3 linked regions of the Homo sapiens genome follow. The protein of the gene in region 2 interacts with the protein of the main gene of each other region in a pairwise test. Each region holds a gene or a part of one and is shown on either strand. Other genes may lie near its edges.

Region 1 (6,953 bases), about 47 Mb from region 2:
GGTGAGTAGGCCATTTTCTTATTATTATTTTAATCGAATTGGTAAAAGTAAGAATGTAGGAAAGAAAGTAAAGATTTCGTTTGAGTGGGAGAAAAAAGACTGGCTCCTACGAAGCGTATTATGTATGTTTTTGTATCCAGAGGATGACAAACATGTAGGGAAGCGCTAGTGAAAGACACTGCAGCCAGAGCTCAAAGGTACTATTTAATCTGAAAGACAGAGAAGAAATATTGTAAAAAATAAATCCTATGGCCCATAGAAAGTCTCATGGAAGGCAATCAAGAAGACTTCAAGAATCTAGGATCAAAAAAGAAAAAGGGTTTGGTGGTTGTCACAAAAGTGATAGGCATAGGAGGTTTTATATCACTCTCAAGATCTCACCATTCATAATGAACCAAACTGTTATAAAGGAAATCCCAAATGGGAAAACTTCGTCAATCCCTATCAACTCAAATATTTATTTTTTAAATGCAAAAATTTAACACTTTCATTCTTCTTCAGCTTCTTACTATTTGTGTCATTTTTAAGGTAATTAAGGATTTGAAAAAAGCTAACTTCCCTAATTAAATTGACATAATACATTTGCTAGATTGAGAGAGCAGTAGGTGTCCCAAGGGATCTCAAGATCAAGTTCTAGTTCAAGCACTTTGTTGGGAGGCTCTATTGGGCCCCTCCCTGAGAGTGGAGTGCACTGTGACTCCGAGTGGAGGTCTCCGTAGCAGGGAGCCTGCACAGAGCTTGTCAAGGTGACTCTGGTTATACATGAACTCTGAGAACTCTATAGCTACTGCAGGTAAATAGTCCCACCAACCTTTGTTCCCACCAAAAATATATCTGCTGAAATTGTTCTTAAATTTCTAAACAGACCATTTAGTCTCTACCTAAGTTGTTCCCTTTAAGCAAATGGGTAATGTTATAGTAGTTTTAAAAGCATTTGGTCAACCATGAAGCACCACAGAGATATTTTAAAAAATATCATCCCCTAGGAGAGGGGAAAACCTGTTAAGAAAACCCTTTCATTTTTCTATCTTGTTATCTAACACCATGAGACCAGCAACATCTTTGTCAAATCTCAATGTGAATGAAAAAAAAATTAATTGTTCTAGGGTTGGCAGGAGCATTTGACTTATATTTTCAGGTTAGTGAACTGAGTCTACTATTCCTATTACGTGTAGGAACTAACTGTTGAAAAATTGAACTCTCACTTTTTCACATACCAACATTAGTTCATTAAAACCCTTTCAAAATGGAACCTGATTTACCTGTTGTCTCATATGTTCAAAAGCAAATTTGCAAAAACTACCACTATGAATTCCAAAACCAGCTTGGACAAAAACTCATTCAACTTCTTGTGTCCATAAATTGTGGTTCTGTGTCTGTTCTACTGAAAGTGCCTTTGTAAGCATATTGTAGTAGTGTCTATATTATAAATTGTAGATATATGGAAGACTGGGGTTTTAACACATTATTATGAGTTCCAGTAGCATTAGCCATATACTATAAGTGGGGATAGAGACACACTTCCAGAATTTGGATAGTGTTCAACTGTTTGTTTCATAGTCCATTATTATAAGATTCTGTAAGGCCTATAATTTTATCTCTTGACACCTCTGTAAGTATATTATCCATATATTTCAGATTTCTTGGGATGGCCTTGATTTTAAATATTTTGCTTGTTGTCAAATCATGTGTCGGACAGTATATCTTATTTTCTGTTTTAAAAAATATGTTTATGATAGCTGTAAGTATAGACATTCTCAATTTCCTAGAAAAGGATTATGAATTTTATGTGAACTCAAGAGCTGTTATTATTAAGGAGAGACTATAAAGTTATGACAAATTTTTAATTTAGTGTTTGTAGGATTCATTTCATTATTACTAAAGTAAAAGTAATTGAATCATACTTTTTTGAGAAAGAAAACTGGATGACTGTGTTGTTTCTTTCAAGCTGATGTTAATATCTTTAATAAGCATATAAAAATCTGTTGATAAGTTACTAAAATTCCTTAACACCATTACTGTAATGTTCACTTTTGAGGACTGGAAATACATAATAATCCATCTTTTCTCTGTCTTTGCTTATACAGTTTTTAAAATTTAACTCAAGATGTGCATCTATTACTGCTAATAGTGCAATGTACCAGGCCAAACATTTGCCACTGACTGTCAAGTGTCTTTCTGATGCAGCTGAAAAGGGAGAGAGAGAAAGAGACGGAGAGAGAGAGAGAGAGAGAAAGGAGAAAGAAAGAGCAATGTCCCTTGAGCAAGACTTTCTGCAGCTGTTGTGTACATTAATCCAGGGAGCAGATCTCCCAACACTAAATATAGCAAGCGTATCCTTTTACATGATAAAAAAATTTAAAATGAAAGTCTTTATGCAGGCATATTATTTTAGATTCAACTTCCTTTAAAAAGGAAACTGGCATTGCTTACATATTCTCTATATAAACAACATTCTTTTAATAAATGAATGTGTGGAAAATGCCAATGAGATATGCAACATGTCACAACTTCTTCTGTTGAGATATTTTTCCTTAGGAACTCAAGTAGTCTGTGATCTCTGTGAGTCTCATCAATCCCCTCCAAAATCTTTACATGTGGAAAGCTTTATTTTTCACTTAATTTCGTGTCCCGTCATATGTAATTAGACAGTTATCCTAGGTTTCATTTCAAGTAACAGTAATGAGTTCTTTGAAATATTCGCTTTTCCACTGTCAGTGCCCTGTTATCAAAACACACTTGTGAACTTAAATCTGGATATTACCTTTCTTTTTTTAGTTGACCCAGATGAGGATGTCCAATCCAGGCACTCCACTGCAATGATAATTATCCAGGGAGAACTTTTAGATGAAAGCACAGGAGAAGAGGGAAATTCTTCACGCCCTTGGAAATAGAGAGTAGCCGTCCATAGAGAGTGAGGAGTTAACCTTAGTTTCAGTGAAGATGGCTGTAAGAAGCTGGACAACCTGTCACCACCGGAGCCAGAGCATTTGTCAGCTCACAGGTCCCAAGTTATTTTGAGCTGTATAAACCATGTGCCTGTGAAACATTCCACCTGATTGGACAGGAGAAAACTGAGCAAAGGGATTCCATAGCAGGACAGCACCTATGGGGGTGGGGGTCAATCAGTTCTTTTACCTATAGAATTTCCCTTATAGCTAGAGGCCCATGTTATTTATTGATTGACGTTTGGAATGAACACTAAATGCATTATACCATAGTTCATCATTCAAAAAAATGGCATTATTTTTAAATGTATGAAAACTCTTCATTTTAATTTTTAAGATCTTTAATTTTAATCAATAGGAAATTTACTCTCATTAAATCACTGATACATTTTAGGACATTTGGCTATGAAAAGCCAACCTGAAGCTAAGGTCTAACGTTTTAAAGCTGAGAGCTTTTTTGGATTGTTCGTCCAAAGGCTAAGCAAAAGCAGACAAGGTAACTAACGTTAAAAATTCCTTGGCTGGGCGCAGTGGCTCACTCCTGTAATCCCAGCACTTTGGGAGGCTGATGTGGGCAGATCACCTGAGGTCAGGAGTTCAAGACCAGGCTGGCCTACATGGCGAAACCCCGTCTCCACTAAATATACAAAAATTAGCCAGGTTTGGTGGCGCATGCCTATAAATCAGCTACTCAGGAGGCTGCGGCAGGAGAATCACTTGAACCGGGGAGGTAGAGGTTGCGGTGAGCCGAGATCACGCTACTGCATTCCAACAAGGGGGACAGAGCGAAACTCTGTCTCAAAAAAAATAATAAAATTAAAAATAAATAAATAAATAAACTTGAAAAAAGTTAACCTGATTGCTTAGTATAGATTAAATGATGCTATAACATTATCAATCATGGTAGAAGACAGGACTTTGAAAATTCAGACTTAAATGATGGTTATTATTCTTTAAAAAGATCATTCTTAGATTCTGATAGCATGAAACACATTGGTTTAAATCTAGCTTTCTTAATTAAGTCATACAACTGCTTATAGGGTTTCTTCCTAGTCATTCATTCATTTGATAATTATTTTCGTAATGCCTACTGTGTACCAGGTACTGAGTATAAAACAGTGCACAAAATACACAAAAATTTCTGACCTCGTGGAATTTACGAAGAGATCTTTATCCTCTTCAGTCATCGTGAGACTATTGATAGTACATTGAACAGATATAAAATTTCTTTGCTTATTGTGATCACATTGGAGGTTTAATTACACCTTTTTTATGTGGTTTTATGCTTACACAGGCAAAAAAAGATGAAGAACACTTTTAAATAATTCAGATTGAAATAACTGGTATTGAGGAGAGAAGAGGATACAGGAGGAAATGAATTATCTGTACAGGTTATTCTCATTACCACAGTAACCCAGAGCTTCAATGTACAGATTTATTTTTTCTCTTACCTAATCTTGTGCTGATACTAATGTCAAGACCACTTAATTGTCCTTCTGCATATTCTATTTATGTGGATATGCCAACAATTTCTTTTTATTTAAAAAGAGGATCTTCCTCCACTATCCCACTCAGATCTTAAGCCGTAATCAATGTTAAGTGCTGCTGGGTCTTGGGTAGGTCTCTCCCATGGGAGAATAGAACCTCTATTTCAGGTGGCTAGTAAAGGCAATGTTTAAACACACTATAAGTAAACACATTTTTACTTTCCTGCAAACTGCCATGATAAGCCTGGTATTCTACCTTTCACCCAGGTATAGAATACTAAGGTTGAAGGAGACTCATACTAAAAGGTAGAATAAAGCTGGTTGGGCAGTGAAATTAGGAATCTATATGAAGAATTAAAGTAGGTTTAAAATGCAAAAGAAGAGTTACAGAAAAAAGAAGCCGGCCGGGCGCGGGGGATCACGCCTGTAATCCTAGCACTTTGGGAGGTTGAGGCAGGCGGATCGCCTGAGCTCAGGAGTTTGAGACCAGCCTGGGCAACGTAGCGAAACCCCATCTCTACTAAAAATACAAAAAAAAAAAAAAATTAGCAGGGCGTAGAGGTGCATGCCTGTAGTCCCAGCTCCTTGGGAGGCTGAGGCAGGAGAGTCTCTTGAACCTGGGAGGCAGAGGTTGCAGTGAGCCGAGATGGTGCCATTGCACTCCAGACTGGGTGACACAGCAAGACTGTCTCAAAAAAAAAAAAAAAAAAAGAAAAGAGAAGCCAAAGACATTCTGAATGGCAGTCATCTTTCTCTTTTCATTTTTACTGCAACATTTTCAAATACAGATACCATACACAATTTTTGAGCTCTTTGAAAAAAAGCTGAATATAAATGTTTTAAATAAATAATATTTAGTAATTGTGAACACTCTGGTTATAGTACATCAAACATATTTTAGATTTTAGTTTTTAAAAACTAATTTCTGCTTCCAAATAACCCAGCTCCTGCCTTGCTTATCTTCAGTTGTAATTGTATAAACATTATATCACAAACCTACTAGTTCAAGATTTCATCAGAGTTTATTGATACAAAAAATAATCTTTAAAACTTTCTAATGCCCAACATAGTTAAAAACAAACTTTGTTAAGTGGCAAGCAAACACAAGGTTGGTTACATGTCTTAAGCCTTCCCCATAAAGTTGAGTGGCTCATCCAACACATGTGTTTCTTGTGGTTTGAACACGATCCTGTGCTTGCCTTCAGCTGTTTTCTTAATTCAGTCAGTCAGCCACAGAAACAATTTACTCACATTGGGATGATCCACAGGAATGCCAAGGAATCTGGAAGTTCTATGGCAGAGGAAGTCTTCACTTGGACGGTAAGCATGGGAGAATTTCCATGCTAGTAGATTCATATAAAATGTTTGCATTTGCTATTTTTTTATATCGCTATAGGCTCCAGTTCTCTAAAACAAATTACTCACATATACCAAAGCTTCAATAAGTTTTGCTTGAAGTTCATAGATTCATCTTGACATATCCAGTATCAGATGAAAAAACTAAACAAAACCTCTATGCCGTATTTTTGAAAAACAGAGAAAGTATGTATTTTTTAGCCATTTTTAATGAGAAAAATTTTCACAGCAAAGACAAGTTCTTGACTATCCAAAACAATAGATGGGTGGTGGATTATAAAAGATCTTATATAAAAGGCATGACAACAATATAATTGAAAAAGACAATGAAATCACTAAGAAATTTCTTTTTCATCTAAACTACTGAAAATGCTTGCCTGGGAAAACTAAAAACATTAAAAAAAAAAACTAAAAGTTCAAAACCCACTTAGTTTTAAAAACTAAAAACATTTTTAAAAACTAAACAGAACACCCACTTTAAAACATTATCCTGAGAAGTAAATTTGTGGTTACCTGTCTCAGGAGAAGCACCATTCCTATATCAATCAACCAGGATCATCTAAAGTCCAAATCTCACTGCCTAACTTGTGTCAGACACAAAAGTGCCATGAAGGAAATGTGATACTGCCCCGCCAGAGTAATGAAGGGTATTTACAGGGTTCCGTTGCAGATCCAGGGACAGTCATTTAGAACAGATTGCTCTTTCAGATCAACTTTAATAACTCAGTCTGCACGATGTTCTTAGCCTGCAGGGCTGGTGGGGGTGGATAATGACTAAGATGACTAAGGAAATAGGCTTTCTTGATTTCTCCTTAGTCTAAATGAAAATAAGAGTGAAGAAATTCTCAAGAATAAAGCATATGGAATACATAAGATATCTATACACAGGATGCATATTACATGTATAAATATCTTTATCTGGTACCAAACTGGGACTATGGTCAAGGCATTTATTAAGGTAAATACGAAAAAACAATCAATTATTACAACACTTCCTGTTTGTTCCCCTAATTTTAAGGTGATTAAATTAAAGCTTTACTGTGTGGTTTGCATTAAAACACAACAAAGCTTCCTTTACTTGTTCTTTTGGTATGTAGTACATATCAAAGTTTACACTTTTCAAAAAGTATTATTTCCAAGAAGAAAATCTATTCAGAACTTT
Region 2 (8,720 bases):
ATTTCATGAAACAAACCTCCTTTTGTCTCAGCACTTTAGTGCAATCCAAATAACTGTATTTGTAAACCCAGAAATAATATAAAAGCATTCTTACTAATAAAAAGCTTATTTAAATGAATCTAGGACAGACTAATTAAGATATATTAAAAAGTTTTCTTTTCATAAATGACTAATTGTATTTAAAAGTAGCATAGCATTTTTTTGGTTTGCCAAATTCTCAGCTTTAAAATTTACATTACACAGTACAATGAACCTCTACAGTTCACAGTGGTTCACTTTTGGGACAAAACCACATAAATGGGATGAACTAAAAAGTGAGTAATACCAGAGAGCATATGGAGACTTCTAGACTGAATATTGTCTTCCAGGGGATCAAGGTCGAAGATGGAGCCAGGATCTGTGCGCCAAACTTTGAGGTCTTTTGCCAAAAGGAAGAAATCAACACTCATCAAGAAGGAATTTAAAAAAGGAAAAAAAAAAAAAAAAGCCAGTACCCAAAAGAGTCAAGACAAAGTCTGCAAAGGAATAGATATAAGAAGCAAACATGTAACAGACAAACTCACAGTGCTGCTGACTTCAGAAGAGAATGAAAAAATACTTGCTTTCACAAGTATCTGTTAAGAAATCTTTGTAATCAGATTGAAGTTGCCTGCTCTATTCATTGAGCTGCCCTATCAGACCTTGCTGAAGTACCTGTGACCCATCACACAACACAGGAGCACATGGGGCAGCTATATGCATCCCCTCACAGCACCCCTGAATCCCCAGTCACTCTTGCTCTCCACAGGCTGAAACAAGCAAAATGTTTGATTATAGTTTCTGATTCAGGACATGTGAGTAATTCATAGGAAACAATTGAGAAGTTTATGTTTAAAAAACAAAACAAACAAAAAAAAAGTCCCTTTCTATAACAGAAATGAATATTTAAAATGTGGAATGGTGGCAAGCCTAGTTTTCATTCTGAGTCTGTGAGTGCAAGCTAAGTGTATCTTAGGGAATGCATATCTTATTAGATACACTTATTTAAAAAGTGTTATAAGCAAGGCACACAGCAAGGAAATATGATGAATGAAAAGAGAAATAATATCAGCTTCCTGCTGTCAATGGATCCCTGCCATAGTCAGTGATCAGACTGTGCAAACCACTTTATTCTCCTCTTATTTTAATAACTTCTGAATTCACCAGTCTCTCCAACAAAAGGGCATCAGATCCTAAAATAAGCTGTTTACAGCTGTACCAACAACTGGAAAAGAAAAACCTAGTTATAGACATACGGCAGAAATGGGGCTACAGCAAAAACAATTAATTTGTAAAATGGAACTGGAAATTTGCTTGTCTGTTTTTAATTAATATTATGTAGTGCTGACCATATGCCAGGCACTCTTCTCATTTAACACCTAATTAATTTAAGTTTCATACATATTATCCTCATTTTGTAGATGAGGAAACTGAGGCACAGAGAAATTGAGTAGCTTGGCCAAGGTTACACAGCTCGTAAGAAGTAGCAGAGCCTCCAACAAAAATAGAAGCAGCACAAATTGGCTTAATCTGAATTACTCAGAAAATCTCTAAACGTGTATTTTCATGCCTGATACAGAAGCTGGCTCATTGGAAAGTTTAATGTTGGCCAATTATGGAAATTTCAATGGAAAACAGTTCTTCCCAATAAGAACAAATAAACTGACTTCTGGATTGCCAAGTAAGTAAATAACTTAGAGTCATACATCTTATATTTTATAAAACAATCATAATTTCAACCTCAATGGTTTTGAGTACTGAATTCTGAGAGCCCACGGTCTAGACAGTTTCATGGTTTTTAGCAACGACCTCACCATCATTCCTGACCTCTGATGTGTGCAGGGCCTGGAAGTAAGCTGTACAGACTTTAGCAGTTCCACCCTAAGTGAGATAAATCAGAACCCCTGCACTATCCCTTAAGATAGTTCCATCCCTTTAGCACAAAGCAATGAAACTCTAATTTGGTGTCACATTGAATGAAAACATCACAACTCATCCATCCAACTTAATGTGATCCTTTTAAGTAATCAACTCAGGCAGATCAGCAAAGCTATCAATTGCCTACAAACATGTTTGGAATCCTTCTTCAGAAAATACTTCCAGAGTCACTTTAGTATAATCATCCAAGTTACTTAGTGCTGCTCTGACTTTAGCACCCTGGTTTTGTAAAGACATTACCCTGTCAAATTTAGCTTATCTCTAAATGGCCTTTCACTAGTACCAAAAAATAAGCTCCTACTTTTGAAGATGAAGAAAACCTAACACTGATATTACTGAGTGGCATATACCAAAAATATTCTTTAAGCTACGTAACTACATAATTCAGAGGTTAACTGCTCTGAAGGAGACAATAGTCTTCAGTTGTTGATACAGACTGAAAAATCAATAATCATCCTTCCTAGCCCTGCCTTATACTTCAGTATGATCTTTTCTGATATCTCAGCCACCATTCAACAAATATCCTTCTAGGATTTCTCCTGACTATAAGGAACAGATAGCAGGAATAAAAGTTTGCTCTCTTAATTGCAAGACTTTCAGATGGCTCTCAACTATTCCAGTCCAGAAATAATATTTTTAAAATGAGCTATTACTATTATGGAGTACCATCAGAACGCCCATGGCGTGTCTGTTTTTGATAAAAGGACCTAAACGCAATATGGTTATTTCTGCCACTTATGCACATGAGGTCAACAGAACAACACGTCAACCAAGCAGAAAAACAATTATTTTGTTTTTCTTTTTAAAGAAAAACAAAGTAATTGTTCAACCATTGTGATCACTCATATCTCTGCTGCTTCTTTGCTTAACAAGGAGGAACATTCTTTTTTTTATTATTATTATACTTGAAGTTCTAGGGTACATGTGCACAACATGCAGGTTTGTTACATACGTATACATGTGCCACGTTGGTGTGCTGCACCCTTAACTCGTCATTTACATTAGGTGTATCTCCTAATGCTATCCCTCCCCCCTCCCCCCACCTCACAACAGGCCCTGGTGTGTGATACAAGGAGGAACATTCTTAAAATTAGCAAGGTATTAAAGACAGAGCTTCCAATAATAGAAAAGACTTGAGATGATACCAGGTGAATGCCAGAAATCCCATTCCACATCGTACAAAAATAATACTTTACCTGCGGTCCATTTTAAATTGGGTACCACAACCAACATGTGATGAGGAGTCAGATGACTCAAGAGGGTAATTCTGAAGCTAGAGCAAGCATGATCTTTTCGACCACACACACCGGCCGACAAACGCCGTCAGCTTACCAACAATGATTCCAGGTCTCCTGTCCATCTCCACGATGTGAGGGTGGACCCCTTTATAGGCAGCATCGCTGACCACCTGGGTGTTCTTCCTCACTCTCTCTGTCACAGGATCGTCCACGACGGGAGTAAAGCCTCTCCCCTTTGTTTTTTCAAAATCTTCATGGTATTTTACCTGAAAAAGGAAAAATCATCATACTGAATTTTGCGGATAGTTACCTCTTTCACAACATTTTTATTAAATGACAGGTGTACACTGCACTGGCTGCGTGCAGATTGTCTACATGTATGTATCTTTTCCAAATACTCCAAAACTAAAGTCTGGAACTTCAGTTTCTTAGCATCAGAAATCAAGTGCTGATATTTTCACAAAGTTTTTAATCATTATAGCTCATATCTATTTTAAATTATATATAAAACTATATATATATTATTAATGAGAGCTTGTAAAAATACATATTCTCAAATCCTGGTTACTTCCTAAAATATACTAATTTAAATATAAATTAAATTTCCTATCTCTTCAACTTCAGTATGCAATAAAGTGATATCTATTTCCAGGCAATCATTCATGAAAATGGCATTATTTAAAATCAGTTTGAAATTTTATAGGTAACAATATATACCACTTTTAATATAATTACAAAAACTTATACTTCAAAATATACTTTTTTTATGTCCTGAAATTAGGTCCAGGAGATAGTTGTGTAACTGTAAATTATACTAGAAACCATTGAATTGAACACTTTAAATGGGCAAACTTTATGGTAGGTAAATTACATCTGATAATATAATTTTTAAAACACACATTTTTAAAAACACAGCTTTAAAAACACACTTCTTTTCATATCCTTTATGACAGGCAAACAGACCAAATTTTGTCTTAGAATTAATTGGAAAGAAGTCTACACAAATATCTTTCACACTATGAGTTTACAGTAGTCACGTTAGAAATAAAGACACACCAGAAAAAGTCACTGAGAAAAATCATTTTATTAGACTAAATGTTTCCACTGCATTTCAGTGTGATTAGAAATGCCCCTCCCTCAAAAGACAAGCCAACCACATTTCCATGCTTTGTTAGTTATCGGATTAATAGTGAAGTAATGCCATCCGTGCACTGGATCCGCCCATTCCTTAGCATGTTTTAAGAATGATCTGGTTGGACCCTACCATTGAAATATGATTTTGTGCTTCTTTAACATGTCTCATAGCAGGTGTATCTAAAATCAGACTTGGTCTACCTTTCATCTGTTTATGGTCCTGGGTATATTTTACCTGCAAAGTAAATAGTAGGCATAAGACAATGATAAGAAAACACATGATGTAACATTTTTAAGCTTTACAAATGAGTGAAACATATGCAACATACTTGAAATTATTTTCCAGGTAACTATTTCAGTGAATTAAATTTTGTTCTAGAATAGCAACCTAAAATTTTACAATCAAAGATCTCCTCCACCGCCTACTGCTAAATGACCTAAATCTATCAACTCTAAACAAATGTGTGAATGACCAATAGTAACTATCTATCTAGTCTGTAAACCTGCGCAAGCCCGAGGACTCGTATCTGTAATCACAGCACTTTGGAAAGCTAAGGTGGGAGGATGACTTGAGGCCTGGGATTTGAGACTAGGCTGGGCAGCACAGTGAAACCCCCCATCTCTACAGGTAAAAATTAAAAAAAAAAAAAAATTAGTTGGGCGTGTGCCTGTAGTCCCAGCTACTTGAGAGGTTAAGACAAGACAGCTGCTTGAGCCCAGGAGTTCAAAGCTGCAATGAGCTATGATTGTGCTATTGCATTCCAGCCCGGGCAACAGAGACTGTGTCTCAAACACACACATACACACATACACACACACACACACACACACAACTGGTTATCATATTTAAGTTAAACAGAGAAAATCCAAAACTATTAAATAGAACCCAAAGTTATTTTGTTTCTAAATTTCCCAATTTTCTACCATAAGAGTGTTAAAAAATGCATACAAGCTACTCTATTTCTTTTTATTTTTTTCTCTGCTTAGGGAATAAGAAACAATGAGGAACAAATTTAGTTGTTCTTCTAAGCAGCCACAACTTAAAGGTAATTTATGTTAAATACACACAGCATCTCTGGACAGAAATGTCACTAGGAAGCTGTAAATTGCAAAGCCTAAATGCTGATTCTCAGGCAAACAGCTATTCAGGGTATGCTAAGAAAAGGGCCTGTGTTCTTCACAACTGCCCATCAGAACACCGCCATTTATGAAACTGATTAGGTGTAAGATATGGATACCACTTACTGTGGACCTGAGGGCATTATGTACAATTCAGAATTGAAGCCCTGATATTCACTAAGAGGAAGCACAATATTCAGATAAGATACTCATGTACACCACTGGACTTTGGTGAGCAACTGAATTCTACGTTAACTGTATTTAAGGATTCTTTTCTGTAAGTCTTTAGTGGGGGTAATGATCCATCTCCTATTTTGTTTTGCAGACAGCATTTAACAATCCATGTTCAATGAAATATTTCAGGAAAATGACAATTATTTAACGCACACATCAAAGGCTTTACCACCTTCAAAGACACGGCTAACATATCATGAATCGTTGTTTAAATGAATATAATTTTAACCTAAGCTTTGAATGTAACTGTTGGTCACATCTGGAAATAACAAAGAGTTGCAAAATAATGTAAATGTTTGCAGTGGCAGCTTTTGGAAGTCATCTGAAATAACACATGTACTTATTGGACACATCACAAATGTTTCTTGAAAATAAGTTTTATTTTCACAAGCAAAGGAGGACCGCAAGTAAATAATAAAAGACACATCCTTTGTGATAGTCTAAAATGAAGAAAACCACTTGCCGAGCTAATATTTTCTTGATTCTTCTTCACTCTTTCCATTTCAGGAGTTACACTTAAAGTGGTAGCTCTTCCCAGCTGACCTCTGTAATAAACCTATCATTTCAGAGAACAAAAAATAGAATACTATGAATCAATTCAACAAAGAGACTTATTTATTTATTTAAGACAGGGTCTTGCTCTGTCACCCAGGCTGAAGTGCAGTGGTACAATCTTTGCTCACCACAGCCTCGATCTCCCAGGCTCAGGCAATCCTCCCACCTCAGCCTCCCAGGTAGCTGGGATTACAGGCACCTGCCACCATGCCTGGCTAATTTTTGTATTTTTGTAGAGATTGAGTTTTGCCATGTTGTCCAAGCTGACCTGAAACTCCTGGGCTCAAGTGATCCACCCACCTCAGCCTCCCAAAGTGCTGGGATGACAATCCTGAGCCACAGTGCCTGGCTCACAGTATTTATTTTAATGAGTTAGTCAGGGAAGTTTTGTAGGAAACTACAAAAAATATTTTCAGAGGTTGAGTTGTATTTAAAATGCTGGCATCTTAAATCAATCTATTTCATTTCATCCCATAAGAGAGTACATGTGTCCAAATCACTGTGGATGTACTCGAATACATAGGCATACCATCCGTAAAGCTGTAATAAATATTTAACCACAAAAGGAAATGAGAATAAATGTCTTCATGGAGATTACTTAAAGGTATTCACCGTAGACTGGTACTACATGGTCGTGGTTTCTTAGGAATTAACTGCGGCAGAATTTTTGTAAAGATGTGTTTAAATAGGTGACTGTGGGCATCCTTTAAAAAGCCAGCATGCTTCTCACTGGTCCACTCCTTGTCTAAATAACCATGTTCCTTTTTGAGAATAATGGAGTCACATCAAGTATGACTCTAAATATATGGGGGAAAGATGAGCGTCTACTTCTCTAAAATATAGTTGTTAGGAAAAGTATCAATCACCTGCCTTTGCATTATAAACTGGTAAAATGACTTTAAAGGTGTGAAGAATAAAAGATTTCTTTGAACGTAATAGATTTCCAAGTTTCCTCTTCCAAAGAACCCAATCTATATGTTAATGACTGTAAAAGAGGACTTTCTTCTTGAACTGCATCCGTGAATTATTTCAACAACAGGGAATCGGAGCAGGCCACAAGTTGGTGTCTAGGTAAAAACTGCCAGCCCCTTATTAAGTGCCCCCAAAATGGTCCTGTCCAATATAACCTATTCAGCCATGCACACATTATCATTTCTTCCTAGACTTTGCCCAAAAATGGAGTCATGATTGTGGGAAGTGGAAAGTGGGGCTCGGAGGAAGCGCAAGAACAGGAACACATGCTGGTAGAAAAGGGAGGGAAAATGTTTGTTTGTAGGGCCAGGATGCCAGAAGCTACGACTGTGGGACTTGAGGAGACCATAGCACCCATCAGCTAGATGACAAGATAGAAGGGATACACAACAACCTGTCAAAAAAAGTCACCCAGGCCCGGTGGCACACATCTGTAATCCCAGCACTTTGGGAGGCCAAGGTGGCCGGATTGCATGAGCTCAGGAGTTTGAGACCAGCCCAAACCCCGTCTCTACAAAAAATACAAAAATTAGCCAGGTGTGGCAGCATGTGCCTGTAATCCCAGCTGCTTGGGAGGTTGAGCTGGGAGGATCACTTGAACCCAGAAGGCAAAGGTTGCAGTGAGTCAAGATTGTGCCACTGCATTCCAGTCTGGGTGACAGAGCAAGACCCTGTCTCAAAAAAACAAAAAGAAAAAAGTCATCCTGATGAGTCACTGGGAACCCTGAGGTGGGGAACACCTGACTGTACCCACAATACCAAAGTCCCCGAAATCTTTCAAATAAGTTGTTAGTCAAATGAGAACAGGACATCAGCTCAAGGTTATGAAAATTCTATAAATACAATCCCTTCATTCACACGTGGACAATGCATTTGATAGTGTAAGAAAAAAGTTACTAAGATGATCACACATTGCTGATGTTTTTCTGGTTTTCTTTTGCCCTCTTCAGCTCTGGTGGATCAGAAATTGCAGTTCCCCGTTGAAGTTCTCCCTTATATTTTACCTAAGAAGGATAAATAAGAACTTTAACAGATAGCACAATGGGCTCCACTGAAATACCACAAAGGACAAGGCTCAAAATTAGCACCATCTTTTTACACATTTTTTTCCACAGTTGATTACATCAACCTTCACGCTTACATATACGCCCACATTCCGATGGGTCTGATTTAGCAAGCACAAGTTGTTGCTGGTACTGTTTAAATATGTCTTCAATAAATGCTTTCCTCTTCAATATCAAAATTAACCATAAATTCCACAAATAAAAGTAATGGAATCATAAGGCAACATGCTTTAAAAGAAACGCCAGAATGAAGTCATTACAAGAGAACTCTTGTGAAGTCCATTCCCTGTCACCCTAGAAGGCTTTTTACTGTCTTCTGACCGTGGGGCTTCTCCCTTCAATAGAAGCTAAAGCTCTCTGACTCCTACCACCTCCCAGGGATATTATAAGGATAAACAGTGTTGAGCCTCATTATCTCCACCCAGGAGAACCTACTCTTACATTTTGA
Region 3 (3,857 bases), on a different chromosome or scaffold from region 2:
GTGTAAAGTGCTTTATGTGTATTACTTTATTCAGTCCTTACGACAACCTTGTAAGGTAGGTTCTCATCTCTATTTTACAGAAGAGAAAACTAAGGCTCAGAGAGTTAACTAACTTGTCCAAGTCATACAGCTAATAAGTAGTTTGTGTGGGATTCAAAACTAGGCTAAGCCTCTTTGCACAGAACTTTCTTTGCTGAGCTGGTTGTTGGGTCCTCAGTGGATATAAACAAGACCAAGGAGATGGTGCAATTATCTAAAGATACTCAGGATAACCTCTGCTATTGGATAACCCCCCACTCTGGTACTGGCTTTTCTTTTCTGAAAGATAGCATTGGTCCATATTGTTTGGAGGAAAACTTAATAATTTCCTGGAAACATGGAAGTGTAAGAGAAGCCAACCCAAACTATGTAATCCCAAATATGAAGGCAATAGTGGGTTAACAACTAAAACATTTTAAATGGAAGATAGATGTCAATCTCTAGTAGAGGAAAGCACAAAAATTTATACATATTCCAAAAGCAGTCCCAGGGGCTTGTTCGCTACCAGCAGTTTCCCAAAGGTTCTGCCTTCTGCAGAAAACACATTACCCAACTTGTGTCACCCTTCAACTATGTCAGAACAGCTGCCATGGAAGTTCCCTTTAGATTAGAAACTGCCTTCAAGAAAAAGAGGCCACAAAATGGACCTTGATGGTCTGTTCATCCAGGCGGAATTCGCTATTTGCTCAAATTGAATGGTTAAAAATAAGTCTTTTTATATATGCCCAGGTCATTTGGGCTTTCGGGGTTTTTTGTTGTTGTTGTTTTTTGCATAAGCCATACATGAGACTTAAGGGTTTGTTTTTTGTTTGTTTGTTTATTAGCCAGGGTAAGAGGATTATGGTGGGCAAGGAAGGAGTTGGACGTGTAAAAATAGGTGCAGGATTCTGTCAGGATAATGTTTATTTTACTTCACTTTCAAGGACATTGAGGTATCTGACACATTACCAACAGAATCTAGTAACGTTCTTTTTCAAAAAGCCCAATTTCGCTTGATGTTTCCACTATTCCTTCATAGAAAACTACCTATTTCAGTTTTATTCTACTGTGGCTAATATGATTTCATGGCCCTTTTTAACTTTCTATCAGGAAGCAATGTGGCAGTACAAAGGATTATCCCAAAGCCATAAAGACTTAGGATAATTTTATTGCTCTTGAAACATCATCCCCAAACATATGTTTAGGGTAAAATCTGGTAAAGTGCAGGCCAATAACTCATTTTGCTCTCAAGACTATTTTGAGTGGCAGTAAAACAACATACTTAACCAAAGTTCTGCTTTACTTGTGCCAGGTATTATCCATTCATATCGCAGCTTCATAAAATCATCCAGGGCTTCTGAGCTGAATGCATGTGGCTACCTCACTGCTTTGAAATCAGTGGCATTCTAATCTGGTGGGATAATTTTACCAGTGATGTCATCGGAACATGTTTGCTTATTTATCCATAGTTCTCCTAGGAAGGACGGTGTTTGTCATGGTACCTTGAAATGTAAAGAGTTTGAGCTCATAAAATCAAATTGCATTTCAGCAAGACTTCTTCCTGATTGTCCCTCATTCCATTAAGTTGTGATTTTTAAAGGCAAAACAACATAAGTAAATTTTGCTTATGACATAGATTAATCAATAAATTCAGAATTGCAACCTGTCTATCTCAGGTGCCTACAAAAGATAATTATTTCTTTAGACATGCTTATATTGGATTTGATTTAATATAGATATGGTTATTAGATTTTATTACCTAGAGAAAAAAAAATCCCATCATGATTTGCCCAAAATTAAGCCTGTAGTTTTGTAAAAATTATAGTAAGAAAATATATATGTATATGCATGCTAGAAACTTCTTCAGCAGTGGAGGGATTATATTAATATGTCCCACAATGTCATGTGGCATAGCAGTGCCATTTAAATTTGGAATTTTTTCAAATTCTGCAACCCTTTCTAAACCCAGTTCCTAGAGGTTTCAATGAGACTTTCATCTGAATAAATCATGTACAAGTGGACTTAAAAAAAAAAAAAACTAGAATAGCCTGAACTCCTTTTTCCCAAGAACTTCTCTCCACTGCATGCATTACTGTTCCTTCTTTTTGTATCATGAGTGTGAATTATTTTCATGACTCTTGGCTGTAGCCAAAATAATCTGAGCTTGCTTTCTATTTCTAATAATTATGTGCCATATAATAATATTGTTATTATAATAATAATTGTTATTATTATTATACTTTCTCCTCAATAGAAAAGTGACTGGACCAATCCAAAAAGAACAAACCTCTTTTTTCTCTGATTCCCATTTTCTTCCATTGCAGATTGGATTTGAGGCTCCTCCCCTCCAGGGACAGGCTGCAGCTCCAGCGAGTGGCAGTGGAGCTGATTCTGAGCCAGCTCGCCATATCTTCTCCTTTTCCTGGTTGAACTCCCTAAATGAATGATATTCATTCCAACTGCTGCCCCTCTGTCTGCCTGGCTGAGATGCATGTGGGCAGCAGGAAGCCCAAGTGAAATTAATATTATGCAGATGATGAAAGGGACCTCTGAACAGGATTTCTGCAAAAATAGCCCCAAACTGCAATTCCATATGACTTATCTAACATCTTGGGGGGAAAGAATATTTTGAGAAAATAGTTGCAGAAAGCACTGGAAATAATAAACTTGATCTTATACAAATCTTCTATTGTGTGGAAAATGTTGTGAAGGGTGTGTAGGTGTGGTACATGTGTATGTCACTAACAAGTGGCAAATGGTGAAAAAAGTGGTCACTATGCTTTTGTCTCTCATAGGCACTGACTTTTTGTTATTATATTATGGTAGCTTTCATTTCCTTTACTCTTTAACAGTGCAGGTGGTCAGTGAAAATCAGTGTCAACTCAGAAGTGACTGATTTATCAATACATGGACAAAAAGTAAATCATTGACCAAAGCTATGAAATGTTTCACAAAGTTTTCCTCTTTTGCATAACAGATGTCACTGGATGTACATTCAGAAATGTTCTTTGAATTTGGTGACACTTTCATGGTCCAGAAAGCTGAAGGCCTGGGCATCTCTTGTGACATTTTTCTAATATTAGTTTTAGATTTTCACGTATTAGGCACTTTAGTTGAATCTTCCAGCAAAAGCTGTCTACTTTCTCTTTTATTCACTGTGGCACCAATCTGGTAAATTGTAGAACAATTGCATGTGTTTAAATATATATACAAACATATCACACATTAAATATATATATATTTAAATCATGCTTTGTTAATATTTGTCCCACCATAATGCCTCCTTCAGAACATAAGTGTAACTTTATATGAACTCTTAAATAAATGATGTTTTTAAAAGCTTCGTCTTATAATGATTTATTCAATGTTCTGTATTATCTTATTCATCCATTAGTTAAGTGTATTTCAAGGGTCCCAGGATAAGATGCATCTTCATACAGACAAATTAATTTTGAAGTATTAAACATTTGATTGAATTGTTTAAAGCTATAACTAAACTACCAAAGGCAAATGCACTGTAAAACTAATTAAATGTGCTGTTCAGTTTTAGAAATGAACAAAGGTAGTTCCTGTTCCTAAGAATAAAAGTGATTAGGGTTGACATAAGCAAAAATGTGGAGGATATTTGTGTAATTATTAAAGTCAAAATGTTCTTCATAAGAAAATTTTCCTATGTGACATTTTATAATGACTAAATTTAGTCGTCTTAAGTGGAGATGCTATTAAGTTTCTCTTATTAGATGTAGTCATTGGAAAATAGCTTAGAAAAAATAGTTTTATGGTACCAAAGTAGTAGTTTGACAGAGTGAGTTTTTCTCATAGAAAAAGAATGCAGCATT

What was found.
Region 1: the proteins of NEBL (region 2) and MYPN interact in a two-hybrid assay, tested with the Homo sapiens proteins (one study listed by BioGRID).
Region 3: the proteins of NEBL (region 2) and TRIM55 interact in a two-hybrid assay, tested with the Homo sapiens proteins (one study listed by BioGRID).

Annotation. Positions count from the first base shown.
Region 1 is NC_000010.11:68,105,535-68,112,487, reverse strand, and holds the start of MYPN (myopalladin), read right to left. Parts: upstream 3,001-6,953; 5' UTR 2,765-3,000; intron 1-2,764. UniProt on the Homo sapiens protein: Component of the sarcomere that tethers together nebulin (skeletal muscle) and nebulette (cardiac muscle) to alpha-actinin, at the Z lines.
Region 2 is NC_000010.11:20,809,481-20,818,200, forward strand, and holds part of NEBL (nebulette), read right to left. Parts: intron 8,213-8,720; coding exon 8,120-8,212; exon of another isoform or gene 8,025-8,119; intron 6,238-8,024; coding exon 6,145-6,237; intron 4,564-6,144; coding exon 4,459-4,563; intron 3,461-4,458; coding exon 3,289-3,460; intron 419-3,288; coding exon 326-418; intron 1-325. UniProt on the Homo sapiens protein: Binds to actin and plays an important role in the assembly of the Z-disk. May functionally link sarcomeric actin to the desmin intermediate filaments in the heart muscle sarcomeres.
Region 3 is NC_000008.11:66,172,129-66,175,985, forward strand, and holds the end of TRIM55 (tripartite motif-containing protein 55), read left to right. Parts: intron 1-2,342; coding exon 2,343-2,465; 3' UTR 2,466-3,357; downstream 3,358-3,857. UniProt on the Homo sapiens protein: E3 ubiquitin ligase that plays an important role in regulating cardiac development and contractility, muscle growth, metabolism, and fiber-type differentiation.